2 separate regions of the Homo sapiens genome follow, and region 2 is linked to region 1. The links come from fine-mapping of genetic effects on gene expression. Tissue or cell type: whole blood. Region 1 holds a variant in brackets; the other region holds the start of a gene. All regions are shown on one strand. Distances are from middle to middle. Region 1 has its middle 27 kb from the start of PGAP1. Region 2 holds the start of PGAP1 (post-GPI attachment to proteins inositol deacylase 1).

What was found.
Region 2: it holds the start of PGAP1, and the variant in region 1 is fine-mapped to the expression of PGAP1 in whole blood (INTERVAL, PIP 0.99).

What each region holds. Positions count from the first base shown.
Region 1 is chr2:196,945,488-196,960,973 of GRCh38, forward strand. No RefSeq gene overlaps it. Among named protein-coding and RNA genes, the nearest start is that of PGAP1, 27 kb to the left of the region's middle. The variant G/GA (reference allele first, on the strand shown) is at 8,124.
Region 2 is chr2:196,918,659-196,934,144 of GRCh38, forward strand. PGAP1 (post-GPI attachment to proteins inositol deacylase 1) reads right to left here and starts at 8,049. Exons shown (of 27, transcript NM_024989.4): 1 at 7,812-8,049; 2 at 1,339-1,492. The coding sequence starts at 7,958. RefSeq lists a silencer at 7,998-8,247.

The DNA.
Region 1 (15,486 bases):
AACGTGCAGGTTTGTTACATAGGTATACATGTGCCATGTTGGTTTGCTGCACCCATCAACTCGTCATTTAACATTAGGTATTTTTCCTAATGCTATTCCTCCCCCCAGCCCCCCATCCCACTACAGGCCCTGGTGTGTGATGTTCCCCGCCCTGTGTCCAAGTGTTCTCATTGTTCAACTCCCCCAGTGTTCTCATTGTTCAACTCCCACCTATGAGGGAGAACACGTGGTGTTTGGTTTTCTGTCCTTGTGATAGTTTGCTGAGAATGATGGTTTCCAGCTTCATCCATGTCCCTGAAAAGGACATGAACTCATCCTTTTTTATGGCTGCATAGTATTACATGGTGTGTATGTGCCACATTTTCTTAATCCAGTCTATCATTGATGGACATTTGGGCTGGTTCCAAGTCTTTGCTATTGTGAATAGTGCCGCAATAAACATACATGTGTATGTGTCTTTACAGTAGCATGATTTATAATCCTCTGGGTATATACCCAGTAATGGGATCGCTGGGTCAAATGGTATTTCTAGTTCTAGATCCTTGAGGAATCACCACACTGTGTCCCACAATGGTTGAACTAATTTACACTCCTACCAAAGCATTCCTATTTTTAAAGCAGTTAAAACTAAAAACAAAACAAAACAAAAAAAATTTAAAAAGAAAAATAGCCTCTAGAACACAAATTTACAGTGCATAATATTCCTTCAAATATTTATTAGTTTATATGAACAACTTTATACAATAAATTTGAAAACCTGTGAAATAGATTAATTCCTAGAAAATTTTAATTTACAAAATTGACCTAAGAAGAATGGGGCAGGCCGAATTGTCCTATATCTAATAAAGAAATTAAAGCAGAATTTAAAAACCATTCTAAAAGAAAAACACTGTGCCCTAAAAACTTTTCAGGCACATTTTAGCAAATATTCAAGTGGAATAAATTTTAAAATGCTATATAAAAAGCTAGGAATAAATTCACATTACAATACTCACTATAAACATAAAACACACTAAACTCAGCAATTAAGAGAAAAAAAAGACAACCATAGTGGAAGAGTAACACAATTATCTCCATTGATAGATAAAGCAGACAGAATATCAATAAAGATAAAGATGACTTAAACAGCCTAATTTCAATTCTTACACAAATATTCCCAGAGAAGGGGAAAAAAAGGCTCCTTGGTTCATTTTATGAGGTTAAAATACCTTGATACAAAATTTAGTACAAAACAGGAAAACGTACAGATCAATCTCAATCATAAATATAGAAGCAAAAATCCTAAACAACAATAACAAGCCTATCAATGTATAAAAAAATACTTTATGACTGGTTAGGTTTTTTTCCCAGAACTATAAGATCGATTTAACATTAAAAATGTAAAAATGTTTTTAAGATGTTAAGAAGTATTTAAAAACATAGTACATTAACAGATTAGAAGGAAAAACTATGTGATTATCTCAACAGATGCAGAAATTTTTAAATAAAACTTAACATCCTATTCAGAAAAACTCTCAGCAAACTGTGACTATAAGGAACTTGCTTCATCTGATAAAACTTCTACAAAAAAAAAAACACAGGAGATTGTACATTTAATGGCAAAATGTTGAAAGTATCCCTTTTAAAATGAGGGATAAAATAAGGATGTTCACTACCATGACTTTTTATATTCTCTATTTTATGACAAGGACATTCACTCTCAAGACTATCCAACATTAAACTGGAGATCCTAGCCAGTGTATTAAGATAAGAAAAAGAACTAAAAGGCGTATGAATCCAAAAGGAAAAAAACAAAACTGTCATTTACAGATAATACAATTTCCTATGTGGAAAACCTCAAGAGATCTCCAGATAAACTGTTGGACTTAATGAATTTTATAAGGTTGCTGGATTCAAAAATCAATATATAAAAAATGAATTGCATTTTTAAATAACAAAAACATATTAGAAAAAAAAAATTTTAAGTATTATTTGTAATAGCAACAAGGCAGAGTACCTAGGAATAAATCTGGAAAACAAATGCGTAAGTCCTTATAGGAAAATTTTAAATTTTTATTGAAAGACCTTAAAGAAAATCTAAATAAAAATTGGATGATAATCTATGATGCTCGTGGATAAAAAGACTTAATGTCACAGAAGTGAAAACACAAATGGAATACAAATATATTTTAAACTACTCAATGTTTTTAGTAGTCAGAGAAATGTAACATAAAATCACAATGAAACACCATTAAACCTCTACCATATTAACAGAAATTAAGAACTCAGACAATACCAAATGTTGGAAAAGATGTGTAACAATGGAAACTGTCATGTAGTTCCAGTGGGAATGTAAATTGGTACAGCGGTTTGGTAGTACATGAAAAAGTTGAACATGCACAGACCATAACCCAGTATTTCTACTCCATATAATGGAAGCTCTTGTACATGTACTCAGGAGACACTGTACAAGGATGTTCATAGTAACATTGTTTGTAACTACAAAAAAAAAAAAAAAACAGAAAAAACCTAAATGTTCATCAACAGTAGAATGGCTACATAAAGAATAGTATATTTATACACGGTACCATGGTGAAAATGAATGAATTACTCTTAAATGTATCACCATAGAGAAATCTGAAAAACAACCTTGAGAAAGAAAAGAGAAAGCAAGTTAAATAAGAATATAAATAATTTATGTAAAATATAAAAAACAGGCAAAACTAAATGACATATTGTTTAGTGATACATACATATGCTAATACTATGATAAAAAATAAGGGAACAAGGAACACAAAATTCTGGTTGGGGTTACACCTGTGAGGGCGGAAGGGGTGTGGGCATATAAGGGGTTTCTAAGGCACTGGCTATGCTTTATTTTATAAGCTGAATGGTTGTTCATTTTATTCTTTTTTTTTTTTTTTTTTTTTTTGACACAGGGTCCTGCTCTGTTGCCCAGGTGGTACAATCACAGCTCACTGCAGCCTTGACCTCCTAGGCTCAAGCAATCCTTCCACCTTAGCCTCCAAGTAGCTGGGACTACAGGCACATGCCACCACATCCAGCTAATTTTTGAAATTTTTTGTAGAGGCGGGGTCTCATTATGTTACCCAGGCTGGTCTTAAACTCTTGGGCTCAAGCAATCCACCAGCCTCAGACTCCTAAAGTCCTGGGATTACAGGCATGAGCCACCACACCTGGCCTTGTTTTATCCTTTACACTACTCATTTACACTGTATTTTCTCTTCTGTAGATATGAAATATTTCACAACAAAATATCTTTTGAAAGCAAAAAAACAACAGAGATTGTTAATTATTGAGATACTTTAGCTGATATGATTGAGATAAGAGCTCAGTTCTATAAAAGAATTCACTCCCCAATGAACTGGGTGGCCCCAGTGCTCTTTATTTCTGAATAATTAAAATCTTTGGATTTTTTGAACCTGTGATGAGGGCTTGGGTGCAGGTAGTGAACTTCTGGGCTGATCACAGGGAGCAGGATTGTGAGACAGTAAAGCAGACTGATATAGGGAAGGAGAAAAGTCGATAACTTATGTATTATTTAGGTCATTTCTGTAGACAGTAGGGGCTCAATTCCACCAAAACCTCGGAGAAGCACAAAGAATGTCTCCTGAATTCATGTTGAAGAACAGGAGACTGTGCACTGACTGACTTTAGCCCCGACTGGTCGAGAGTTGCTCCCAGGGGTATTAACTCACTGACACTTCTGGGCTGCGCTTGCACTTGGACTAGGTACAAGGCTTCCAAAGAAACCTAGAGGCAGAAAAGGCATTATGCATACAATGGTACAGGAAATAGATCCTACCAGCATACATGGAACTGTCCACCACAGCTGCAGCTGCAGCTGCAACCAGAGGTAGGCCAAGGGTGCACCAAAGGATCTGCGACAACCAGCATGACAGAGCCAGGCATCACATTTGAAAAGCATACTCACAACGCACAGGTTGCTTGCTTTCCATCTCAAAATTGCTAAGAGAGTAAATTTCAAATGTCTCACCACAAAAAAAAAGTTAAATATTTGAGGTGATGGATATGTTAACTACCTTGATTTAATTATTTCACATTGTATTAATAAATCATAACATCACTTTGGACCTCATAAGTTCATACAATTATAAATTGTCAATTTACAATAAAAAAATTTTAAAAATCATTTGTGCAAATTCACCCCCTTGGAGATAAAAGTGGCAATGAAAAAATGTTTAATTATTCATCAGAACTATCAGAACTTATTTTTCCCACTCTTTTTTTTTTTTTTTTTTTTTTTTTGAGACAGAGTTTCGCTCTTGTCTCCCAGGCTGGAGTGAAATGGCACAATCTTGCCTCACTGCAACCTCTGCCTCCCAGGTTCAAGCAATTCTCCTGCCTCAGCCTCCCCAGTAGCTGGAATTACAGGTGCATGTCACCATGCCCGGCTAATTTTTGTATTTTTAGTACAGTTGGGGTTTCACCATGTTGGCCAGGCTGGTCTCGAACTCCTGACCCCAGATGATCTGCCCACCTTGGCCTCCAAAAGTGCTGGGATTACAGGCATGAGCCACCATGCCCGGCCTCCCACTCATCTTTTAAGATGCTGCTCAGGTTCTACATCTTCCAGAAACCTTCTCTGGCTCCCCCTGGCTAGATTAGATGTCGCATTTCAATGCCTCCATAACTCTTTGTGCACTTCTTTGCCACTGTACTTATCTGATTGCATTTTAACTAGCAATATATTTATCTATCTCTTCCACCAGACTGTTTTAGTCGTCTTGGAATGCTATGTTCTCATTTGGCACATAGGAGTTAACTAAATGTTTGTTAAATGGATGAATGAAGGAGTAGTGAGTGAACAACTGATTAAGGAAATAAGAATGTAACGCAAGCCAGGAAATAGTAGGAGGAGACAAAAATAGGGAGAAATGAAGGAATAAAGCACAGGAAATTCAGTCTGAAATTAGATTTTCCTCATTTTAATATATTTTTCTGAATTACCAATATGCTTTCAATGCATCTTACTTGAATATTTTTTTTCCTGTTTTTTTTTTCAGAGCACCACTGAAGAAAGGCATAGCAGGTGATATCCACTGGGACAAATACATACTACCTCCATTTTTCCTTGAGGTTTGAAGAGATAGGCTTGGGGTAAGACAGGTGGAGATCAACATATCATTTTGATTACTTGTAAAGCAGCTATTGGAAAATGCCACTTATGTCTGGGAAAAATACTACATCCCAGAATTAGACTGACATTCCCACTCAGGTGTGGACCACTGCTGGCGATCTGTGTGAGGTCTGGTCCTATAACACTGGCTTAGAGACAAGGGTGCTTCCTGTGGGTAACTGGTCCCAAGAGGAGGAGAGGAGGAAGCATGGGGCTCCCAAATTCAGCAGGTAGGTCACTCCCTTCCCTAGGGTAGAGTGTGTGGATGCAGAGGGTCAGGAGAGTTATACTAACTGATGTCCCTTCACACAGAAGAAAACCCCAGAAGTAGGGAATAAATATTACTGTGAAAGATACTCATTTTATGATTAAGACAAAACAAGTTACTCCCACCAGGATGTACTTATTTTTACAGAAAGGGGAAGCCAGCATGTAGAGTAATTTTTACAGTAAGCAGGTTCAAGTTCAACAGCAGGAGAAAGAGACCAGAAGTTAAAGAAACAATATATGTTCACTTTCACACTAGAGAAACGATCTAAATCTATAATTTAACACTTTTAACATTTTTTAAATAAAATAAACTTTTTTGGAGGAATAATTATCACATGGTACAAATTTCGAAAGGTAAAAAGTGTGAACAGTGAAAAGTCTCTCTTCTATCCTGACAACTACTTTCAGAAGTTATTTTTCTAATTATATGTCATCAGAGATATGTTTTATTTCATTTGCCTTTTCCTCTTGATTTGAAGAGTTCAAGGTCCTCAATTTACAAATGAATTTTTAGAGTATAATCTGCTTGCAAGTCATTTGGAATTCAGATTGCATCGCAAATTTCTGTTTCGGGTTTCTTAAGGTAGTTCACTAACAGTACCCCTAGGCATTGGAGGACACAGCACTCATGGGTCCTACAGCTCTAGCTTTGTTCTGAACTACTAGATTAGAGGGGGCAATGACTATTGTGCACATAAGTATCTTTAACTTATAGAGACAATCTATTAAAAAGTTGAAAATCTGTTTAATTACATACAATGGTACCTTCTCTCCTCTTGGTTGCAAATGATACAACTTGAAAAGGAAATATTTTTCACAGTCATTTTTTACTTCAAAGAAGTATGAATATTTCTTTTATAGTATGTTTCAAAACTAATTCACCATCATGATATGTGACAAATATTTTGACTGGGAAAACCAGAGTAGGGATATTTGAAAGATTCTTATCCCAGAAATTGAGACAGCCACCCATCAAGTAATTAAGCCAAATATTTTCTTTTCTCACTCACTCAATTTACTGACCAGATACATTAGGGCAAGGAGTATGCTTGGAGAGGAGTCAGACAGTCTTGAGGGATGAAGCAGATGTGGAAATGAGCAAGGTTCATGGAGTGATACAAAGAAGGAAGTAGTAAATTCTACCCGGAGCTGGGGATGAGGGTTGGAGAGAGGAGGGCACTCAAGAGGCCTCAGTGAGTGTGACCCTTGAAAGGAGACCTCCTTCTGTAGTTCCTACAAAAAGCATAGGCACAGAGCAATGAAACAACCTGCTGTGCCAGGGAACTGCAACTAGGCGGGGCTTTTCTGGCATAAGGAATATGGGGTGGAGTGTGGGAAGAGGTGAAGGTCTGGAGGCTTCTGACCTTCCAGGATTCATGTGGATGCCTTACATCTTAGCCCATCCATCACAATCCTCTGGAAAACTAAAATAAATTATTATTCTTTCTTCTATTACTAATTAGTTTTGTTTTAAGCATATCAACTTATTGTTAATCATTCATACAGGAGGTTACAAAAGGAAAAGTCAAAGCTGTTTTTGCCACTTCTATATCTAACCACCTAGTCCTACTCAGCTGTAGAATATGTTACAAAAACTCTCAGAAGTGCTTATAGGTATCAAGCATTATTTCTTCTGTCTGCTTATTATGTATTTATATAAGACTATTGACTTATTTATATTAATTTTGTATGCTACCTGTTTACCAAATTCTCTTATTATTTATATTAATTTCTCCATTTACTTTTGTTTTCTTTTTTCTCTCTTTTGAGACAAGGTCTTGCTCTATCACCCAGGCTGGAGTGCTGTGATGCAATCACTGCTCACTGCAGCCTCAACCTCCAGAGCTCAAGTAATCCTCCCACCTCAGCCTCCTGAGTAGCTCAGACAACAGGCAAGCTAATTTTTAAATTTTTTTGTAGAAACAGGGTCTCCCTATATTGATCTGGCTGGTCTTGAACTCCTGGGCTCAAGTGATCCCACCTCATCTCCCAAAGTGCTAGGATTACAAGAAATGTGGGCCACTGAGCCAGGCCTATTTTTTGTTTCCTAGATATGTAATCACATCATCTGGAAAGAGATAGTTTTTTATTTTCCTTCTGATTCTTGTGTAATTAAATGCTTTCTCCCAGCCAGGGCAACATGGCAAAACCTCATCTACAACAACAACAACAACAAAAATAGTCAGGCTTGATGGTACAACTGATGTCCCAGCTACGTGGGAGGCTGACGTGGGAGGATCACCTGAGCCAGGGCAGTGAGCCATGATTGCACCACTGCTCTCCAGCTTGGGTGACAAAGCAAGAGCTTGTCTCAAAAAAAAAAAAAAAAAAAAAAACTTTCTCATATAATTGTATTGGCTAATCCCTGTTTCCAAGGCTTAATAGTAATGGACATGGTGGTCATCTTTGTCTTCTTACTACTTTTAATAATGTTTTTCCAGCCAGGTGCAGTGGCTCATGCCTGTAATGCCAGCACTTTGGGAGGCCAAGGCAGGTGGATCACCTGAGGTCAGGAGTTTGAGATTAGCCTGGCCAACGTGGCAAAACCCCATCTCTACTAAAAACACAAAAATTAGCTGGGCGTGATGGTGCGTGCCTGTAATCCCAGCTACTCAGGAGGCTGAGACAGGAGAATCACTTGAACCCGGGAGGCAGAGGTTGCAGTGAGCCAAGATCGTTCCCAGCCTGGGCAACAGAGCAAGACTCCATCTCA[G/GA]AAAAAAAAAAAAAAAAAAAAAAATTTTCCATTAGGTGGGAAGCTGGCTTTGGCTGAAATAGCCATCAATTTCTATTAATTGAGTATTTTTAACATAAATGCATGTTGAATTTTGTTTGCCAAATACCTTTTTGGCATTTATGGCAGCAGCAATCTGATTTTTTTCCTTAGCTTTATTAATATGATTAATTGTATTAATTGATGCTCTACTAAGGAACCACTCTTGTATTCTCGGAATACATTTTATAATAATACTTATATATTATTATTAAATACTGAAGAAGTGTCATTTTCTGGGGTAAATACCTGAGGTTCATTATCTCATGCCAAGGGAATTGAGGACGTGAACACACAAGAAGTGAGTTTAAGAGCAGAATTTTAATAGGCAAAAGAAAGAGAAAAGAGACTAGATCTCTCTCTTGCAGACCCCTAACTGGATCTTCCAGTTTCGTGGTGAAATGCATGAGGTTTCACAGAGGAGCTTGAGGATGTGGTGTCTGATTTACACAGGGCCCGAGAGAGATTGGTTGGACTAGGTGTGACGTTTGCATAGCACATGAGAAAGCTGGCCATACCACCCTAATCTTTTATTATGCAGATGGACTCTCCACATGGCTGGCGCCATGTTGTCTGTTCCTTACTGTACATATCGTTGACAAAGAAAGGGGAAGATGGAGCCTCCATATTGAACATGCTTGGCCCCCAGGTAGCCTTTTTCTTCTATTGGCACAGCTGCTGGTATTTACCTATGCAAGCTTTTAGCTTGCTTATCTATGCTTGCAGCTTGATTTTTCAGGCTGCTTTTTGTTAGGAAAAGAAAGGATTTGGGGGCTGCTTTTTATAAAAAAGAAAACCTTACCGAGGACTTTCTTACTTCACTATCTGCCTAAATAGATTCTTTTTAACTCCTATGTCAATATGCCATTGGTCCTCTTTGCTAATTTTTAAGATTTTTTATGCCTCATAAGTGAGATTAGTTTATGGTTTTCTTAAAAGATTTTTAGAAGTTTTCTTACTTTTCCAGTACTCTCAACTGGATAAAATAGCATTCCAATGATCTCATCTTTTATGGTTTGATAGAATTCCCCTGTGAATCTATCTTTTTAAAATAATGATTTCTCAGTTCTACCCCAGTTCTACAGAATGTGGAGGCCCAGAAATAAAAATATTTTAAAAGTCTTCGCCTGCCACCCCCATCTCAAACCCATCCCTCATCCATAGGGTCTGCATTTTAGAAACACCATAGGATACGGAAATCTATTTGGTGTTTTTAAGCGACTACAAAGTACACTAAAACTGTAGTGTTCAGGATGGATTAGGGAAGGAGACAAGATTGGGCGAGGAAAGAACATATAGAAAGCTGTTTGGAGTAATACAAAGTGAGAAATGGTGATATCACAAAACTAAGCTATAGCAGTAGTGATGGACAGGAGAGACATATGAGAAAGACATTACAATGACAGAAGCAATAGGTATGCCTACCGATTATATGTTGAAGAATAGAGGAAAATAAAGGACAAAGATGACTCTAGTATATGCACAAAGAGGAAACAATCCAAATGTCCATCAACTAGTAAGTAAATAAATGTGGTATAGACATACAATGGAACATTGTGCAGTAACTAAAAGGAAGTACTGATACATGCTACAACATGAATAAATCTTGAATACATTATGCTAAGTGAAAGAACCCAGTCACAAAAGATCACATGTTGTACGATTCCATTCATATAAAATTTTCAGACTAGGCACTCCATAGCTACAGAAAATAGATTTGTGATTGCCTAGGATTGAGGTAGAGGAGTAAAAAACGGGGAGTGACTGCTGATGGATATGGAGTCTCTTTTTGGGTTATGAAAGAAAATAAATCACTCAGCCAAAGGGAAAAGTCAAGCTGAGACTGCATCAGGCAAACCTGCTCCTGTTTTATTCCTAAATTAGATAGCTACAAAGATAAAAAAGCTATTAGGTTGGTGCGAAAGCAGTTGTGGTTTTTCCTATGTTTAAATGGCAAAAACCACAATTACTTTTGCACCAACATAATACATACCTCCCTCACACTTTGCCCACAAGAAAATTCCTTGTGAGACTCAAGATTTTTACCCTAAAACAGTTATGCTGTATTTTACCTTGGCAACGTAAATTGGTAGCTAATCTTCACAGGTGCTGGATAAAGGACTGATGTCACAGTCATTCCCCTGCTCACCTGAGACAAATGCATATCTGATTGCTTCCTCTGCCTTATTGTTTATGTACAAATCACTGAGCCAGACTAAGGCATAAGTGACTATTCTTCTACCCACCTCTCACGTGTAAATTGTGTATTCAGTGAAAGGCTAATCAGAGACTCAAAAGAATGCAACTCTTTGTCTCTTATTTACCTCTGATCCCTCCTGCCTTTCTGGAGTGAACCAATGTACATCTTACACATATTGATTGATCTCTTATATCTCCCTAACGTGTATAAAACCAAGCTGTGCCCTGACCCCCTTGGGCACATGTCATTGTAACTGCCCAGTGGGTTCACCTTGCCTGCTGCCTGGCCAGAGCCGATTTATCAAGACAGGGGAATTGCAATAGAGAAAGGGTAATTCATGCAGAGCCAGCTGTGCAGGGGATCGGAGCTTTATTATTACTCAAATCAGTCTCCCCGGTTAGGTGTCTTTCACTGTCTCAGTCATAATTTTCCAACGGCAGTGTCATCATCAGGACCTCCAGAGGCTTTATCATGGGCACGTCCTTAAACCTGGCAAAATAAACTTTCTAAATTGATTGAGACCTGTCTCAGATACTTTCTGGGTTCACAGGAGTGGTGAAAATGTTCTAAAATTAGATTGTGGTGATAGTTGCCAGTCCTGTGAATATACTAAAAACCACTGAATTGTAAACTTTAAAACAAAGGTGAACGGTATGGTATGTGAATAGTAATGTTACGTGAATTGTGCCTTATTAAAGCTGTTTGAGACAGAGTTTTGCTCTGTCGCCCAGGCTGTAGTACAATGGCGCGATCTCGGCTCCCTGCAACCTCTGCCTCCTGGGTTCAAGCGATTCTCCTGCCTCAGCCTCCTGAGTAGCTGGGATTACAGGTATGTGCCACCATGCCCAGCTAATTTTTGTATTTTTAGTAGAGATGGGGTTTCACCATGTTGGACAGGCTGCTCTTGTACTCCTGACCTCAGGTGATCCACCTGCCTCGGCCTCCCAAAGTGTTGGGATTAAAGGTGTGAGCCACCTCACCTGACCACTTTTTTTTTTTTTTTTTAAAGTAAAGAAAGAAGTTGGAAGGAAAGCTACTGAACTCAGCTTTAGAAAGGCTATAAATAGTAATTGGAACTATGGAAGGGGATAAAGTTACAAAAGATGAAGACAAGCATGGAAAGTTATAGAATCATGGGTACATTCACACTCTAGCACATTATCCTGAAATTCTATATTGAAATAAACTGAGCTCTTAAGTTTTTTAATACAAGCTGAAATTTCCCTTTGCTTTTCACTTTCTTGTTAAAAAGATACTTGATTTCTTTATCACAACCGATATTCAATGGATTGTTAATTTTAACAACTTAATTGTCATTCTCACATAGTAAAAGAATAACAAACTTTGTATATATATATAAATGCAACCCATTGTCTCTTATCTACCTGTGATCTCTCCTACCTTTCTGGAGTGAACCAATGTACATCTTACACATATTTGTCTCTAAATATATATATATATTTATATATAAATATATATATTGATTGACCTCTCATGTCTTTATATATTATATAATATATATTTATATATAAAGACATGAGAGGTCAATCAATATATTTATATATAAAAAATATATATATATTTAGAGACTCTATATATATGTATTTAGAGACAGAGTCTCATTGTTACCCGGGCTGGAGTGATCACAGCTCACTGTAACCTCAAACTCCTGGACTTAAGTGATCTTCCTGCCTCAGCCTGCCAAGTAGCTAGGACTACAGGCGTGCGCCACCATGCTGGCTAATTGTTTAATTTTTTTGTAGAGACCAGCCCAGGCTGGTGTCAAATTCCTTGCCTTGAACAATCCTCTCGCCTTGGCCTCCCAAAGCCCTGGGATTACAGGCCTGAGCCACCCTGCCTGGCCGTATTTTTAAAACCTTTATCTGGAAATGATGTTAAAAGAGTTACTTTCAAACACCAGTGAGAGGAAAACACTTCTCCTCTATGACTGGCTTCTCTCTGAAGGTTTATGAAAGTTTGACCTATTTGTAGGACATGGGGGTAATTGAATAGGGTGTACATTAAGATGAATGAGTTTAAAATTGTGAGGTTAACCCCAGCCTCACAATGAGTCAAACAATGGAGAATAGCTTGTTTCATGGAGCTGAAGCTTTTGTTATTTTTGTTGGTTAAAGATTCAAATTGATTACATGGAGGCTGCAAGCAGATTCTCTAGCAAATTGGCATCCTGGGGAGAGCCAGGTACTTTGAAAATTTCTAATTAGGAGAAGTTAAAGGTTATATAAGCCCAGCTGCCAAACTGACTGCCTGACCTTAAAATCCAAACAGAATCTACCTTCCTTTCCTTCCTTCTTCTCCTTAGCCAAGACCTTACCTAGAAATGAATTTTAAAATGCAAACAGGAACTTCTGTGATAAACCAAGTCTAAGAACTAGAAGGAAGCTTATTAGTTACAGTTGAACAGACTCTAATGGCTATTCAAAGTCTTTAAGCATTCACAGCCTTAAGTAGTCACACATTTGGCTTCAGTTTCAACTAATCCAGCTAGAGGACAAAAACATTCAGTAAATTATACCGTATCCATAGAATTTTTGTTCCTTAAGCATATTTACTGCATGTATTAGTCTGTTCTCACACTGCTATAAAGAACTACCTGAGACTGGGTAATTTATGAAGAAAAGAGGTTTAATTGACTCACAGTTCTGCAGGCTTAACAGGAAGCATGACTAGGAGGCCTCAGGAAACTTACAATCATGTTGGAAGGTAAAGGAGAAGCAAGCATCTTCCTCACATGGTGGCAGGAGAGAGAAGGAGCAAAGGGGGAAGTGCCACACACTTTTAAACCATCAGATCTCGTGAGAACTCACTATCATGAGACCAGCATGGGGGAAATCCACCCCCATGATCCAATCACTTCCCACCAAGTCCCTCTCGTAACACTGGGGATTACAACTCAACATGAGATTTGGGTGTGGACACAGAGCCAAACTTATCACTACATTTTTAGAAACAGGATAATTTAGGTATGGAGTTATAGATCCTATGGAAAAATCTAGTCAAGACCACGATGAATATGACTTAATTTTATAAATGATGTTTATACTCCTGCCAAAAAAAAAAAAGCCAAGTAGATCATTGATTTCTTACAAGTTATTTTACCAATTGTGGTTTAGAAAATATTTCTAATCCAATTGTCACCTATCTTTACCTGTAGAAACAAATGTGGTCACACACTTTACCTGTAGAAACAAATTTAGGTCACACATTGTATAAATTATAATGGGATTCAAATTTTATTTTCTTTAAACAGTAGCTATTTTTCTTCAAAATGGTCCTGGTTATTTCTGGGAGTCCCTGAACATATGCTTTCCTCATATTCACAAACCAATCTATCAGCTTTAATCACTACTAGAATCATCCACCCACTTAATTAATAGGTACTGAGTGCATACTATGTGAGAGGATACAACAGAGTCCTACAGAAATCTCTGTCCTGGCCCTCTTGGAGCATCCCTAGTATTTTTTCTTGTCTGCTCCAGTTCTCATCTGTCAACATGAAGTCCTGGCAAGCAGCTGGAAGAAATTTTTATCACTGCCTTCACTGAGGAAGTCCACTGCGAAACACTTGACCAAGAATGTGCTGAGAATACTGTCTCCCAATGTCTCCAAAGTCCCCATCACATGTGCCAGAACAATACTGGATTCCACAGGGAGGTGGGAAAAAATGGCCCTCTCCAACTCTGTGTCACTCTTTGACATCTGGGCCCCAAAGCAAGTCCTGTTCATGAAAAAAAATATTCTGTAGTTCTAGGGGCTCACAATCCACCCAATGGCCTCAGTGTCATGTTATCGTCTCCATTATCCTCATCACCCCTCTTCCCTGCCCCAAGCTATTACCAAACAAAAGCACCCAGCAATGTCAATGAGAGAAAATGTACAGTGGGTGCTGGTGGTTGTTTTTATACTAGGAGTGTCTGGACGCCAGCTGAAATGGCCTGTGACATTGTGTAGCATAATTCAAAAGTTTGGCCAGCAATCCTGCATACAAAATGCAACCACTTGAAGGTTTTGCCCAGAGCTATGGCAATAAAGTGCATAGCAGCAGTTCAGTGAACTTTCTCCATTCTTCAGCCTGCGCAAAGCACTGGCTGATGTAGCCAGATATTGTTGTCCATGGCTTTAATTATTTAGAAGTAGATATGAATAATAGGGAGCTTGAAGTTGTCTAGAGCTTGGTGTGGTGCTGGCTCAAAATAGCAACTAATTCCTATGTAAGTTTAAAAGAGCTTGGTATGGGTAACCTCTAGAAGATCCCAAGCCAAGTAGAAAATGTGGTCAGGAAAAGGATTCAGCCCTTGAATATTGAGAAATCATGTTGTCACAGAGAACACGTGACAACTTCCATGTGCAAACAAAACATAACAGATAACAGGCCATTCAGAAACTGTTACTGAGGGACTTGCTCTTGGAAGGCTGAGGATAAATTAAAATAAATCCAACCAACACCAAGTCTGACTTGACACGTAGGTGAGGCAGAAAGCTGAAAAAAAAAAAAAAAAAACTTCCAGAATTGGAGTCTTGGATAATTTTAAATGGTCTCATTCAAAAGTTCCTATTCTATAGTAAAAAAGAGTTCAACATAGGGCTATGATATTTCTAAAACAGGACTTGAATGTGGATCAGATGGCTGAAATTTTGATATTTCTAGTATTTTGCTCAGTTTTGTTCTTCCCATCATTTAAATGACCTCAAAGGAAATGTTTACGATCACTAAAGATTTCTAATGCCCAAGAATAGGTCAATTCTCAGCCCAGGGCTTGACAAATTAGCAATTAATTATTGTTTTTATTTTTAAAATATTTATTTAAAAGGCAATGCATATTTGTTTTAGATAATTTTTTTAAATACAGAAGTAAATACATAAGATCAAAAAGGTCTCTTCCAGCCATGTGTGGTGGCTCACGCCTGTAACTCCAGCATTTTGGGAGGCCGAGGTGGGTGGATCACCTAAAGTCAGGAATTCGAGGCCAGCCTGGCCAACATGGCGAAATCCCATCTCTACTAAAAATACAAACATTAGCCAGGCATGGTGGCAGGCACCTAAAATCCCAGTTGCTAGGGAGGCTGAGGTAGGAGAATCACTTG
Region 2 (15,486 bases), 27 kb before region 1:
AAGTTAAGGAAATTACTCTCTTAACATTAGGACTGTGATTCTGTCAAGAAAGAAGGGAACAAAGTTTTAATCATGAAGGGGCACAGAAGGGGTTTCCAGGTTACTGGTAATCTACTTCTTGACTAGGGTTTTGGTTTCACGGGTGTTCACTTTATAATAATTTGTAACCAAATATCTATGTTCTATGTGTTTCTCTGTATGTAATATTTCAAATACAAAGATTACTTTTAAAAATCAGGTTATATTTTTCTTACCCAAAGCTCTCCAACAGTTTCTCATTCAAAGTCTTTTCCACAGCTTATATGATATGGCCCGTGGTTACTTTTCCATTCTTATCTCTTTTTACTTTCTCTAGTCACGATAGCCTCCAATGCACAAAACACGTTCCTGCCTCAGGACCTTCCCTCAGTCAAGCATCTCCTCAAATGTCATCTCCTCACAATGGCCTTTCCTGACCACCTCATCTAAACTAGCCACTTCCTGACCCTTTTATCTTCTACCTCCTGAGTCTGTTTTTGTTTCTAGCTTTTAACATTACTGACATATTTGTTTGATTGCTGTCTTCCTGATAAGCATATAAATTTGATGAGAGAGGGACTTTGTCTTGATATGCTCTGGATCCCTAATACCTGGAATACAGCCTGGCTCATGGTAGATACCTGTAGACACGTGCTAGATGAATAAACACGTAAATAATTGCACATGTTGAAACAATTCTAGTCTCATTACATAACAATTCTAGTCCATCAAATAACAAGAAAGCAGGTTTTAGTTTAAAACGAAATTAATTCCAGGTTATTTGGCTGTTACGCCAGAAATAACTGCTGTATCTCCAAGCCAGCATCAATTTGGAATCTGTACACGTAACTTCCCTATCTCACCTTTCTATGTTCCCCCCAGTACTTCCAAATCTCTCTAACTTAAATAACTCCAAAAGAAGAAAACGAATCTCTCTTGTTCTGCATAACATTAGTCACTGATTTACTTCCCTAATCAATGCTTAAGGTTCTGTTCTCTTTACCCTCCATTTCCAACATAAATGTGTTTCCTCTGCTGATTCCCCAAGGGGTTCCCCTTTATCATCTACTTATCCCATCCTACTCTATCTTATTCTTTGTACCCCTCTCTTTGCAAAGTGGTCTTCAACTTTTCTAAGTATTTCTCACATTATTCTCTCTCAGAGAAAATATTATATTTTGGTCTCTCTGTAAGCCCAGCACAGCACTTCACACACAGCATGCATTTCATTTACTTTATTTGATTCACCGAGTATGGATATGATTCAAATTCTTGAGTTGAATTTTATAGCTTTCAAAATTTACTTCCAGTAAGACTTACCTTGCTTATAACTTCCAGCATTACCAGGAAGAAAGAGAACTGGAATACCCGTCAAAGGGAGAATTTTGTGTTCTTCAGCATAGGATCCCTCTCCATAAAGATACAACTCATATGCGGGATAGCGTTTTGCCAGTTTCTTTGGAAGTTCTATTTTCTACATTTAAAAAAAAGTAGTTTCACTTTAATCAGTTTTATTAATACAATTCAGCCTCACCATATGCAATTCTGAATTACGCAAATTTGAAATAGTGCAATATAAAAATATTACTGATATTAAAACCACACTTCATACACAAAACAAGTTCTACTTGTAGTTTATTCATATAGAGAATCAGTCTTGAATTGTGTATATTTTGAACCATGTAGTCTTTAGGAAAACATAAAAGAGGACTACGTGAACTTCTAACCAATACAAATTACTCAAAATAGCCACTGACAATGGCAGAAAGCACTGGTATATGTCGACAAGTTACATGTTAACATAATTGGATAAGTATCAATTATACTTAGAAATGATAAAGGCTTTCCATCATCAAATCAATTCTTTTTTTCCATTTTTAACTATTTTGTAATGTCTCTCCTTTTACTCAGACCCAACTATCTATTTCAGTTGTTATATCTTCAAAAGAAAGTAAGTTGTTTTATAATGCAGCTTTCTGACTTCTCAACTTAATATGCTTTGGCCTACAATATGTGTAACAAATTAATCTTAACCTTATAGCCATGTCTTGGTCAAGACATGTACACTCTTCTTACCATAAACATTCCAGTGAATTAGTATCTATTTCAGTTTTCATGGGCCAGGTGCATGATTTGCTGGCAAACTTTAAACTACCCTGCACTTCATATTATTGTATACCAATAATACAGCAGCTCACCTAACTACTGAGTCAGTAGTTCACCTACATTTTTTTCAGCTTAGTATAAATTATCTCTTAATGTCATCCTCAAAGGTAGACATCTGTGGTAGTAAAGTATACATACACCCTTTTGCTCCTTTTCTTTTTTTATTTTAAAGGAGAGAAACCATTAAGAGTGAAACCAATTACATTGGACGGTAATGTCTATTTAGGTATACATAGATCTAGCAGTGCTGTACATGTGGCATGTGCTTGATAAAAGAATTTAACTATGGAGTGAATTTCAAAACCTGTAAATGTTGCTAATGACTAATGAAAACCCTCGTTGTTCTAAAAAAAAAAAAAACACACACACACAAAACAACAAAATTCTGATCATTTGTGCACCTTCCTAAATATCCCTTTGTAAACAATTTATGCCAATAACACCACAGAAACATCTGCAGAGACTGTAAGCTTATTAAGATACTAGCAATCTTAGTTATCTCCCCAAATACTCAAAATACAGAAATACTAACCCCACTATTCGTTTTATATTTGGTATATGTACTTCAATTCAAATTAGTCCCAATACTGATTGTGCACAGAATACAATCAAAAATGAAAATGATGTGATAGTTTACTTCTTTAGGTACAAATTAAATAAAAAGAAAACATAAGAGAACAAAGAAATAGTTTCCTATTTCCTCCCAATTTAGTACACCATTATTCTTTTAGTACAGTAGCTAAACAGAGTTTGGACAAGTCGAAAATTAACTCAGAAGAACAGGAAACTATCAAATATATCTAAAAAGAAATATTTAATTTTCTTGAGACAGAAAAGCAAGCAAAAAATATTTTATATACTTCATAAAATACTATTATGAAAGCAATTTTATAGTGAGAAAGAATATTTTTTAAAATATGAATATATACAGAATTTTTCAAAAAGTATGGAGATGGGCAAATAAGTTAGAACAAAAAAATAAGAGAGGAGGCAAGAATGGTGGGAGTTGTAGGCAAATGGCAAAACTCCATTTCCAGGCAGAGTTCAAGTTGAAAGGGAATAGCAAAGACCCAGGAGAGGTAATTGACCACATTGACAGAAAAAGCATAGGCATACAAATAGGATGCTGATAAGAAAACAGAAGACGGTCAAGGGATATAAAAGGAAAATACTTACAGGAGCAGGACTCCAATATAAATTTTTTATTCTATGTAGTTTATTTTAAATGAGCAACCCCTCTACCATATTAAGATCAATTACCTTTGTATTTAAATATTATCTCCACAATCCTGCCTCTGCTGTCCTCCTTCCTTGACTCTGCCTTAGTTCAGGTTCTTCTCATCTCTACATAAACTCAAAAGGTAAAAATTCTAATAAACTCCCAGGTAATAGAAAAATGCTGATTTAAGAAACTAAAATATCTATTTTATGATATTACTTAATTGTAAACTTAAACTGAAAAATAAAGTTTTATTTCCATAACTAACCAAAAAGAAAAAAGATTTTGATCTAGATGAATACACATAGTTTTTAACTTCACATAGTTTTTAAGTTCTCACAAAGAGGTCTCAGTAAGGCCTTTGCTCACCATCCCCCATAAGAATAGTTATAGGGGCTCCATTAAAAAAAAAAAAAAGGCCTTAAGGACAACTGAATTTTTCAGACTTGTCTCTATCCTTGCCTTCGTCTCCCTTCTATAATCCATAGTTCATACTGCTAACACACACACACACAGACACACACACACACACACACACACACACACACACACACAACAAAGCTTAAGAGAGAGACATCCTTTAAAATCTGGCTCTAATTATTCTTACCTACTTTTTTTTTTTTTTTTTTTTTTTTTGAGACAGGGTCCCACTCTTGTTGCTCAGGCTGCAGTGCAGTGGCACAATCTCAGCTCACTGTAGCTTCGACTTCCCGGGCTCAAGTGATCCTCCTACCTCAGTCTCCTGAGTAGCTGGGACTACAGGCAGCACATGCCATCACACTTGGCTAATTTTTTGAATTTTTTTTTTAGCAGAGACAGGGTTTCGCCATGTTATCCAGGCTGGTCTTGAACTCCTGGGCTCAAGTGATCTGCCCGCCTTGGCCTCCCAAAGTGCTAGGATTACAGGTGTGAGCCACCTCATCCCGCCCTTACCTACCTTCTTATAACTTACACATGACATGCTTTAAAATGTATTTTTAATATGTTTTTGAATTCAAGATTCAAAAGGATATACATTGAAAAGGTTCTCTCCTACCCATGGTCCTTCAGCCATCCAGTTGACCCTAAAAGGCAACCTGTTATCAGTTTGTGTGTGCTTCTAGAGATATTTTACATATATACAAGCAAATATGTTTATCGATTATTTTTTAGTTTTAACATAAATGATAATATATTATAAATACTGTTCATGCAATGTGTCCCAGCGCATTACCACCTTCACATATACTATTTATGCCTGCAATGTTCTTTCAGTACTTCATACACCCTCCATGTCCCAGTTCACTTTGCATCTTCTCTAAAGCCTTTGAACACCCAAGACAAACTTGGATGCTCTCCCTTATATGAAAAGCTCTGTACATACTCTCTTATTGTGAAATTATAAAACTCAGTACATTATATTGTAACTATACATTACATGCCCATTTCCCCCATTGTATTTATCAAGACATAAAGACACAAGGTATAATTTAGTTCTAATTCCCTTTCACCTACACCAAGTAGCTAGATATACCTGGCAAAGACTAGTCATTCAATAAATGACTTTCTAAATAAATAACACACTTAATAACAAAATATATGACTCATATTTTCTTTTTTTCTTTCTTTTTTTTTTTTTTGAGACAGAGTCTCACTGTCGCCCCGCCTGGAGTGAAATGGCACAATCTTGGCTCACTGCAACCTCCGCCTCCCTGGTTCAAGCGATTCTCCAGCCTCAGCCTCCTGAGTACCTGCGACTATAGACGCACGCCAACATTTCCTTTCAGAGAGCAACCGTTAGGTTACACATACGAAGATAGCCAGACAAATCACTGTATGAGAGAAACAACTCAGACGTTTCTTCTAAAATTCTGCAATTTGCCTAAAACCATTTGCTACCAAATAAAAGTTTTGCCTTGCTGTCGTAATAGGGCAAGAAGCTTTAAAGGATAAAGTATATTTTGCCTAGTAGGCTTGAGATATGGGTTCGTGAGATGTTCAATTAACTCTGAATAAGTGAATCTGGGAAAACCAGAGGTAGAAGATGAATAGAGATAATCAAACAATTTTAAATTCAAAACTTCATTTTTGCAAAGAGTTTCAAATTTATGCCCCATCTTTTAAAAAAATGGATAATAAAACTGAATGTGTTTCAACCACCTTTCTATTTCTGCTGGCTAACTAAAGAAGATGCAAATGAGCAGTAAAAAAAAAGAAAGGCATCAAAAGAAAGAAGAAAACCCAATGACTAGGACATCTCACATCTGGGTATCAACCTGTGAACAATTAGAGAGCTGACTATAAAATATAATTAAAAGTAAGCAATATGTAAAATATCTTTAAAACATTTTTATTCATGAAAGCCATTTGGTTCTCAACAGAATGGCCTCATTTATCCAGAAATCTCACTATGTTCAAAATGACTCATTTCTATAGGCTGGTTTTAATTGTATTTGTAAGATAACATGACCTGGTATGCAAAACAAAAAGACTTAAGAATACAATATAAATACTATCATGAATTAACACAGCTTTTTACATCATAAAAACCTGCTAAAAATCAAAAACTTCTGCCACTGTGATTATTACTGTATTAGCAAATTATTAATAGAAGTGTAAAACCCCAAAAAAGCAACTTAAACCAAAATAACTAAACCTAGACTACTCAACAACAATAAAAACCCAAAGAGCTCTTTACCATTAGCTACACTAATTTTCTGTTTTTCCAGTCAATTTATGAGGCAGGAAATGCGTCTGTGAGATCCATATGCTTTGTTCCCAACGCTAAAGAGAACAATTTCTACTTCTGTGAATATTAAAATAGCTTCAATAATTGTAGGAAATCTAAAAATAAATGGGAATTAGTACTGTACTGTCACAAAATGATTTTAACCAAACTCTTCAATGCGGTACAAAACTAAAGTGACCTACTTCAATCTATTGGGAGTTTCCTAATTATTAAACCAAAAATAAGGAGGGAATTATAATAGCTCTATTTTCAGTTTTTTAAAATACTAAACTAAAAAGGTTTGCTTAGAAATGAACAGAGACGACAGTAACATGTCAAAATCTTCTCCTTCGATAGCATCCCTACCAAATGTTTCCACTCTCTTATCATCATAAATGCAAAACCAAGGTAAGGATCTAAACACAAATGAAATCTAAATTTACTAGAATTTTTCCCATGGGAAAGAATGCTCTTCAGCAATTTAAACCTTAAGTAGTCTTAAGATCAAAATAATAGCAGCGTAATCAAGTAACAGGCTTCCTCCATAATGACTTGTACAAAGAAGCAATCAGGACTTGCATCCTTCACCCTAAAAAAAAAACTGCTGTGATTTTAAGAGTATACTAAAAATGTATTTTATCAATATATGTTATAGTGCATATACATTTTATGGTAGGGAATTATTACAATAGGTAGTCCATAATTAAGAGATGCACTTAGAAATAAAAGAATCATTCGGAAAAATTCTCTTAGGACAGTTGTGTAATTTGTCTGCGCCTCTTTTTACAGCTAGTCATGAATGAAATTCTAGATCCTACTATGCCGAACTAACGAAGCCATTGATTGAAAACATTCAAAATGGCATGGAAGCGGTAGGGGTGGAGAGAGAAGGGTTGGCTCTCTCTTAAACTCCGAACCCAGCGAGAAAACAAAAATAGCACCATGAAATAGATTTTGTATGCAACTATTAAGAGGCTCGGCTGCTGAGAGACATGCATAAACACAGGTATGCACACACACAGGCAAGCCCACACACGCACGGCCCCTTAACCTGCAAAATAAGAGGATCTGCAACATCTTTCCAAGAGGGGATCTAGTTTCCAATTCAATGACTCGCCAGTTTACCCATAGGCAAAACCCTGGAGTCTCTAAAAACAGCCTTGGGAACTATCTAGCCAATATACACTCTGCAGACGCTCGGTCCCTTTCTAGAAATGCGAAATCTGACGAGCAGATCACCGGGCGCGAGGGGAATTTAGGCGCGTGGGAAGCAAAGGAAGGTCCTGGGGCACGGGTTAAGGCAAGAACGCGAGAGGGATGGAGCTTCGGTTTAGGGAGAAGGGTTGAGGCTGCCTCTCTGGGCATGAGGGGGGCTGGGCCCGGCCAGTCAGAAGAGCTTGTGCCCAGGATTTGGGGCTGGGGAGGAGGCGGAGGGACAGCGGAGTAACTACGAGGACGACCACGAGGATGCTCTCGGGAAATCGTCTAACAAACACCCCACCGTGAAGAAGGGACACAAAGGGGAGGTGAGGGGGGCAGAAGGGGGATGCAGAGTCTCCCCGGGCGGAGAAAACAGAGGCGAGGACGGGACAGGGGGCCCGAGAGGCGCAGAGAGCCAAGGCAGGACGAACCCACAGAAGGAAAAAGGCACCAGGGGCCAGAGTCTTGGAGCGCCCGGCTGAGGAGAGGGCAGAACCTTACCTGATACTCCGGGTACTCAAACATGTAGCTCATACTGCACTTATTCTCCTCGAAGCCGAAGAAGACATCCCACAGCCCCAGGGTTGCCAGAAAGACCATGAAGACATAAAACGCCAGGTTCCAGAGATTAACTGAGTGAAGAAACATGGTGCCGCCACCACCGCCGCCGCCGCCGCCGCCCCCTCTACCTCCTTCTCCGCCGCGGGGCCCCAAGCCCGGACTGAGCGTGCTAGACACTGTCCGACCGCCACCCCCGGAGCCGAGCCCCAGCCGCGCGCGCCTGCGCTGATGCCCGGCCTGCCCGTTCGCCAGCCGCGCAGTGCGCCTGCGCGCACCAGGTCCGCGGCGCCTCTGGCCTGGCGACTCCCAGAGCCGAGGGAGGAGTAGGTGTTGCAGCGCGAGCGCGGATCTACGGGAAAGAGAAAGAGGGAGAAAGCAGGGTGGGCTGGGCTGGAGGGTGAGGGGAAAGAAGGGAAGTGGGGAGAGAAAGACGCGAGGAGTGGCTGGCGGGAGGGAAAGAAGAGAGAGAGAGGAAGCATCCAGAGGGGGATGGGCGGAGCGCGGGAGCCCTGGAGACGAGCCGGGGGATTGGGCAGGAGGCGGGTGTCAGATGGGTGAATCTGGGGAGGGGACTAGAGCCCAGAGTCCAGAGGCGATTAAGGACCGAGAGCGGACCGAGAGAGGGGAGGAGGACTTAAAAGCCCAGGGGTCATCAGCTGTCACCTCGCAAACGCCTCTCCCTGCGGCAGTTTAAAAACGCTTCCCGTTCAATTTTGAAAAGACTCAGGCCTCCGCAATTTCGGTTTTCCCAACGGTAGTAGAGCACACTCACAGCTCTCTGGAGCAGTTAGCTTGAAGAGGGAACAAATGGCTTTATTTTCCCTCTTCTACCGCCTACTTGGGCCCAGTAGGTAACAGCGCTTAAAAGCACCGGCTCATTAAAAAAAAAAAAAAAAAAAAAAAAAAAAACACCCGCAAGCCGACGAGATTCTGCTCTTGGTATCAGATGAAAGCCTGAATCACAAAAAGCATCGTTAGTCCTTAAAATATGTTACCAAAATATCTATTAGCACTGACGTCCCCAACAGGTATCTGCGTAATCAGTTTGACGCTGACTCGCCTTGCTCTCCAGAACCTCCATCTCTTGGGGAATGGGTTCCACGTTAACTGGAGGAGGCAATTTCGTCCAGCTTCCATTCAAACTCGCAAATGACTTAATTCGTTTTGAAGAATTTCGGTTCTGTTTTGTACAAAGGAGGAGTTTTTAAAAAAAGCTCGAAATCAATCACTTGTAGCAGCTTCAAAACACTAGAATGTTAGGAAAAAGACATCACTCTTTAAAGCTGACTCAACAGTAGACGGTGTGTGTGTGCGTGTGTGTGTAGTAACCACAGGATTCTTAGAATGGTCTTTGGCACTAAATGAATTTCATTGAACTTGGGCTGATTTTCTGGTATATTTTCTGTGCAGAGGAAGTTTGGCTACAATACATAAAATCAAAGAATTTTAAAACCAAAAGGAAGCTTATAGTTTATCTTGTACAACACCCTGATGTTCAGATTACGAAACTATGAAGAAGAAGTGGAGTGATCCTGAAAATCAAGATAGTCTTTACCCTGCACAGAAACAGTTGCAAGTCTAAACAAACACAGCTAGCTACGGAATGTGGAGTATTGACGGAGAAAGACAGAAATGGGAAAATGCGGAAGCAGTCTCCTTTTTTGTAGGGAGATAAGTCTGGAAAGACCAGGATAACAGGGGAGCTGTAGGTGGTACTGATCAGGAGGGCAATTAAGTAATATGTCATTGAAGTAAGTCCTGTATGAGACGTGTCGTTTTTGTTTGTTTTGAGACTGAGTCTTGCTCTGTCGCCCAGGCTGGAGTGCAGTGGCGCGATATCGACTCACTGCAGCCTCCGCTTCCCGGGTTCAAGTGATCCTGGTGCCTCGGCCTCCAAGTAGCTGGGATTATAGGTGTGACCACCACACCTGGCTAATTTTTTTTTTTTTTTTTTTGAAACGGAGTCTTGCTCTGTCGCCCAGGCTGGAGTGCAGTGGCGCGATATTGACTCACTGCAGCCTCCGCTTCCCGGATTCAAGTGATCCTGGTGTCTCAGCCTCCAAGTAGCTGGGATTATAGGTGTGACCACCACACCTGGCTAATTTTTTTTTTTTTTTTTTTTTTTTTGAGACGGAGTCTTGCTCTGTTGCCCAGACTGGAGTGCAGTGGCGCGATCTCGGCTCACTGCACCCTCCACCTCCCTGGTTCAAGCAATTCTCCTGCCTCAGCCTCCCGAGTAGCTGGGATTACAGGCACACACCATCATGCCCGGCTAATTTTTTATTTTTAGTAGAGACGGGGTTTCACCATGTTGGACAAGCTGATCTCGAACTCCTGACCTCTTGATCCACCCGCCTCATCCTCCCAAAGTACTGGGACTACAGGCATGAGCCACTGTGCCCGGCTTACCTTTTTGTATTTTTAGTAGAGAAGGCATTTTGCTATGTTGGCCAGGCTGGTCTCAAACTTCTGTCCTCAAGTGATCCACCTGTTTCGGCCTCCCAAAGTGCTGGGATTACAGGTGTGAACCACAGCACCCAGCCTGAAATTCTTTATGAAGTGGTGATTTCACTTGGGAATGTCATGTCTGTTATATTCTATTAATAGGTATAGAATGTGTTAAATTTGTAGAATTACACCAACATGACTGGATTATCAAGAAGAACCCATTTTGATCGCAAGATGTTAAGAGATAAATGTGATAAAGAGGAATATATACTATAGGGTTTTGACATTGTTGACCATAAAAGAGAATGCATGTGGGGTTTGGGATGCAATTACCAGTGAGTGCAGAGGATTACAAATCATTTGGGGAAGGCTTTAAGTTATAAATAAAAAGGGGGGAATACATTGAGTCTGGGTGCTAAAGAACATCAAAGGCAGAACGTCTCCTCTTTATTTCTCCTAGCATGGTAGGAGTAGTATTATGACAAATAAACCCAGGGTGAATCCATACTCCCTCATCTCTATCTCAGTGCTTCTTAAAGTTAATGTGCATGTGAATCACTTGGAGATTTTGTTAAAAAGCAGATTCTGGGCCGGGCACAGTAGCTCATGCTTATAATCCCTGCACTTGGGGAGGCCAAGGTGGGCGGATCACGAGGTCAGGAGTTTGAGACCATCCTAGCCAGCATGGTGAAACCCCGTCTCTACTAAAAATACAAAGAATTAGCTGGGCATGGTGGTGCACACCTATAGTCCCAGCTACTTGGGAGGCTGAGACAGGAGAATCACTTGAACCCAGGAGGCGGAGGTTGCAGTGAGCTGAGATCCCACCACTGCACTCCAGCCTGGGCAATAGAGCGAGACTCTATCAAAAAAATAAAAATAAAAAAAAGAAGATTCTGATTTAACAGTTCTGGGGTGGGACCCAAAATTCTGCATTTCTGACAAACTACTGGGTGATGCCAATGATACTGGTCAGTGGACTACACTTTGAATAGCACGGACCTGTACTGCCTGAGGACTCTGTTCTATGGAGAAATCCCTGAACTCCAAGATGACAGAGCTTCCTCTTTTGGTGGCCTTCATGAGTTGTGGCAACTAGCTGCATTGACTGTTCACTCAGAAAGGAGTGGGATAGAGAGTCAATGGATTCTTCATGTTTGTAATCTTTCTATCCTAATTTTTTACTGTCTTTTCTCCTATCCATCATTATCCACTCCTAGCTTTACTTTTATATCTAACCTAACCCTACTGAGCATCACTTCAACCACCCTCTGCCAGAGCTGTCAACTGTCTTGACCGCTTGTCTTTCTATCCCACTCTACTTACAAACTTCCAACCTTGGGACAATATAATCTGGCTCTGAGCTCTGACACTACTGTATCTGACTACTGCTAGAGAAAATGACACAGTCATTTGAATTAACTCTTCAAAAATACTTGGCCAGGCACAGGGCTCACGCCTGTAATCCTAGCACTTTGGGAGGCCGAGGAGGGCAGATTGACTGAGCTCAGGAGTTCGAGACCAGCCTGGCCAATATGGTGAAACCCCATCTCTACTAAAAATACAAAAATTAGCCAGGCGTGGTGGCGCACGCCTGTAATCCCAACTACTGGGGAGGCTGAGGCACGAGAATTGCTTGAACCTGGGAGGCAGAGGTTGCAGTGAGCCGAGATCTCACCACTTCACTCCAGCCTGGGCAACAAACAGAATGAGACTCTGTCTCAAAAAATACTTATATATGTTTCTGGTCACCACCTTCCTCTTCTATATTTCAGACCACCACTTTTTAAGTTCCCTGCCACTTTTTAAGCTCCCTACATTTCTTCTTCCTTCTCTTTTAGTAGGTTTTTAGTACATAACCTTATCTTCATATTACAGAGATAATTTTGATTTTCAGATGCACATTGCTTCAGCTTCTCATTCCTAAGTTCATTATCTTCACCCAGTCCTAATTCAGTTAATACATCTGAAGTGTTTGGCACAATGACTGGCATATAGTAAGCATTACCATGGTACTTTGCTATCCTTAGAGGACATAAAAAGCACATCTCTCTAGCTATGTTTTATGTTCCCATCTCATGCTCCTTTCTTTTCAGGAAGTTAGTTCTATCAGGTTAAGGGCTCTATCAATCTCTCCCTTTCTATCCTCCCTCCCCAAAGCATATAAATATGTGTTGTTGTTTTTTTTCAAAAATCTTCCTCGTGGCTCTCACCTGTAGCTCTTCTCATCTCAGTCAGGATTCCTAAAGATGTGATCAATACTTATGTCTAATTCCTCATCTCCCCTTCATGTCTCAGCTACACTGTAATTTTTGCCCCCCTCCCACTCCCATGAAACTTTTCTTGCAAAGGTAACCATTGACCTAATTACCAAATCCAGTTTACACTTTTCAGTCTTACTTGATCCTTCTACTACATTTGCCACTTCTTTCTTAAAACAATGCCCTCCATTGTCTTCTGTAACATCATTTTCCACTGGTTTTCTCCTGTTGATGTAGCCTCTCAGTCTCCATCTCATGTGACTTACTTTTTTTACTTATCCCTTACATTTTATTAATCCCATGATTTTATTCCCAGTCATCATTCTACTTTCCAGCAAAAATCCTTTAGTGGCCCCTCAGAGCGTGAACTCTAGTCAGGATTCTTTTGGTTGCAAGAACACAAACTAACTCCAGTTAAAATGGGGATTTTTTTTTTTAAGGTAAAAAGGAACTTGGGAATCCAGAATAAGCTGACAAGTTAGTACACATGCCGACTTCAGGGTGTACACAGTTCCCTCATGGCCACTCCCAACTCCAAATTTAACCAACCTTTTAGCTAGTCACTACTGGTTATAACTCCTCTTGTCAATTTAGATCCAAATCCTGCTTTGGAGGTTGGAAGGTGGGATATCTCTCATTGATCTAGGTGATTCTTTTGAACCAGGACTCACATAGCAAAGACTATTAAATAAAGATTTAGAGTAAATAGAACTAGAAAGGTAAATAGGAGCCAAAACTGCAGTAAACAGAGTAGAAAAAAGAATATGAGTTTTATACAATAGGTAAGTGGAAGCTACCGAAATGGGAAGTATTAAGAGCTAATTGTTCAGGAAGATTCAGCTTACATCAAAGTCCAGCTGGACTGCATGGCATAGAGTCTCTAATTCAGACCAACAAGAACTGTGTATTTAGTCCAGGTAGAAGAATAAAAGAAAAGGAGTTTTTTATATTCTTCATTATAAAGAACTATAAAGAATATTTGGTTAACTAATGAAGAACAGGTCAGTCAGCTAAAATGGAAAGGTTCCCAAGATTATATCATTAAGGGAAAGAACAAGGTGCAGAACAGTATATATGTATGTTGTCTTTTGTGTGAGAAAGAGAAATACTGGAAGGAAAATGAAAGTAAGTGTTACCTAGAGGCAGAGGAAATGAGGTGAAGGGGACAGGAGTAGAAACAAAACTTATCTATGGATTTGTGTGTGTGTGTGTGTGTGTGTGTGTGTGTGTGTGTTATGGTTTGAATGTGTCATAAAGTGCATGTGTTAAAAACTTAATCCCCAATGCAATAGTATTAGGAGGGTGGGGCTTAATAAGATGTGATTTGGGTCATGAAGGCAGATCATTCATGGATGGATTAATGTTACTATCAAAGGAGCAGGTTAGTTATTGTGTGAGTGGGTTATTATAAAGCAAGTTTGGCCCCTGGTACCTCTCTCTGTCTTGTGTACTCGCTTCTGCCTTCCATCTTCCACCCATAGGATGACCCTCTCCAGATGCCAGCTCTTGGACTTCCTAGCCTCCAAAATCAAATAAACCTATTCTTTATAAATTAATTACCAAGCCTGTAGTACAGCAGCAGAACATGGACTGTCACCTCTCTATATATCTTTTGACTTTGAACCATAAAAGTGCAGTAGCCAGTAGAAAATAAAATAATTTAAAAGCAATTCTATAATTGAAAATTGAAACAATAAATTTAACTATAACAAATACTTACGATAAAACTATTGTTAGGAATTCAGATTTTTCAGTGCCAGAGAATAAAGATGCATTAAAAATCAAAGAAAAGTTTTCAAAGTTGATACAGCCCAAGTGTCTTATAGGTAGTAGGCTGAGGAATACAGACTACCTATTCAAAAGGACAATAAGAAGAAAGGAATTTTGTACAATGGGGATAATCAGGGGTAATCCCTCGGGGATAATCATCCCTGTCATACAAAAAATGTAGGACTGTAAGGGAAACATTTAGGAAACAAAATTGTATATATAGTTATTCTCAACTATACAAAATGCATAGAAAAGTGTCTTCAGGGAATGTGAAAAAATGTTAACACTATTTACCCCTTGGTAATGAGATTATGAATGATCATTTCAGCATTCTTTTAATTTTTTCTCTACTTTCCAAAATTGTTTCAATAAAGTTTTAATCGAAACTATTTTATCACTATTACTAATGCAATCACTATATCAAATAAATTGAAATTTCGTTCAGACATGTTTACAGTTGTGTTTGGGTTTGTTTGTTTGTTTGTTTGTTTTGAGACAGGTTCTCACTCTGTCACCTAGGCTGGAGTGTAACAGCATGGTCATGGCTCACTGCAGTCTCGACCTCCTGGGCTCAGGTGATTCTCTCATCTCAGCCTCCTGAGTAGCTGGGACTATAGGCATGCACCACCACACCTGGCTGATTTTTTGTTTTTGTTTTTGTTTTGTAGAGACAGGGTTTCGCCATGTTGCCCAGGCTGGTCTTGAACTCCTGAGCTCAAGTGTTCTGCCTGCTTCAGCCTCCCAAAATGCTGGGAGTACAGACTTGAGCCACTGCACCCCTCCTACAAACATATAACATGTTATATCATATTAAAAGTTTTAAAATATATGTCATTATATGATACATTAAAATATCTTAAAATGTATAGATCATAATGTTTAACTTATTATGATTTTGTATTCAGCATTTGAGAAGAGAATTTCCTGATTTACTGGGAGAATAACCAGTTACATATCACTTTTGGCACCTTTCTTACACTTGGAGAGTGAGGAGAGAAAGCCTACAAATTGGTTATAGCATTTGCATTGTAATATCCATTGCTTCTTATATTTTATTCCTCCATGCATAGTTCATTTTTGCTTTTGCTTAATTAGATCTTTGGTAGTTCTTTCAAGAAGGGTTTATGGGTAAACTC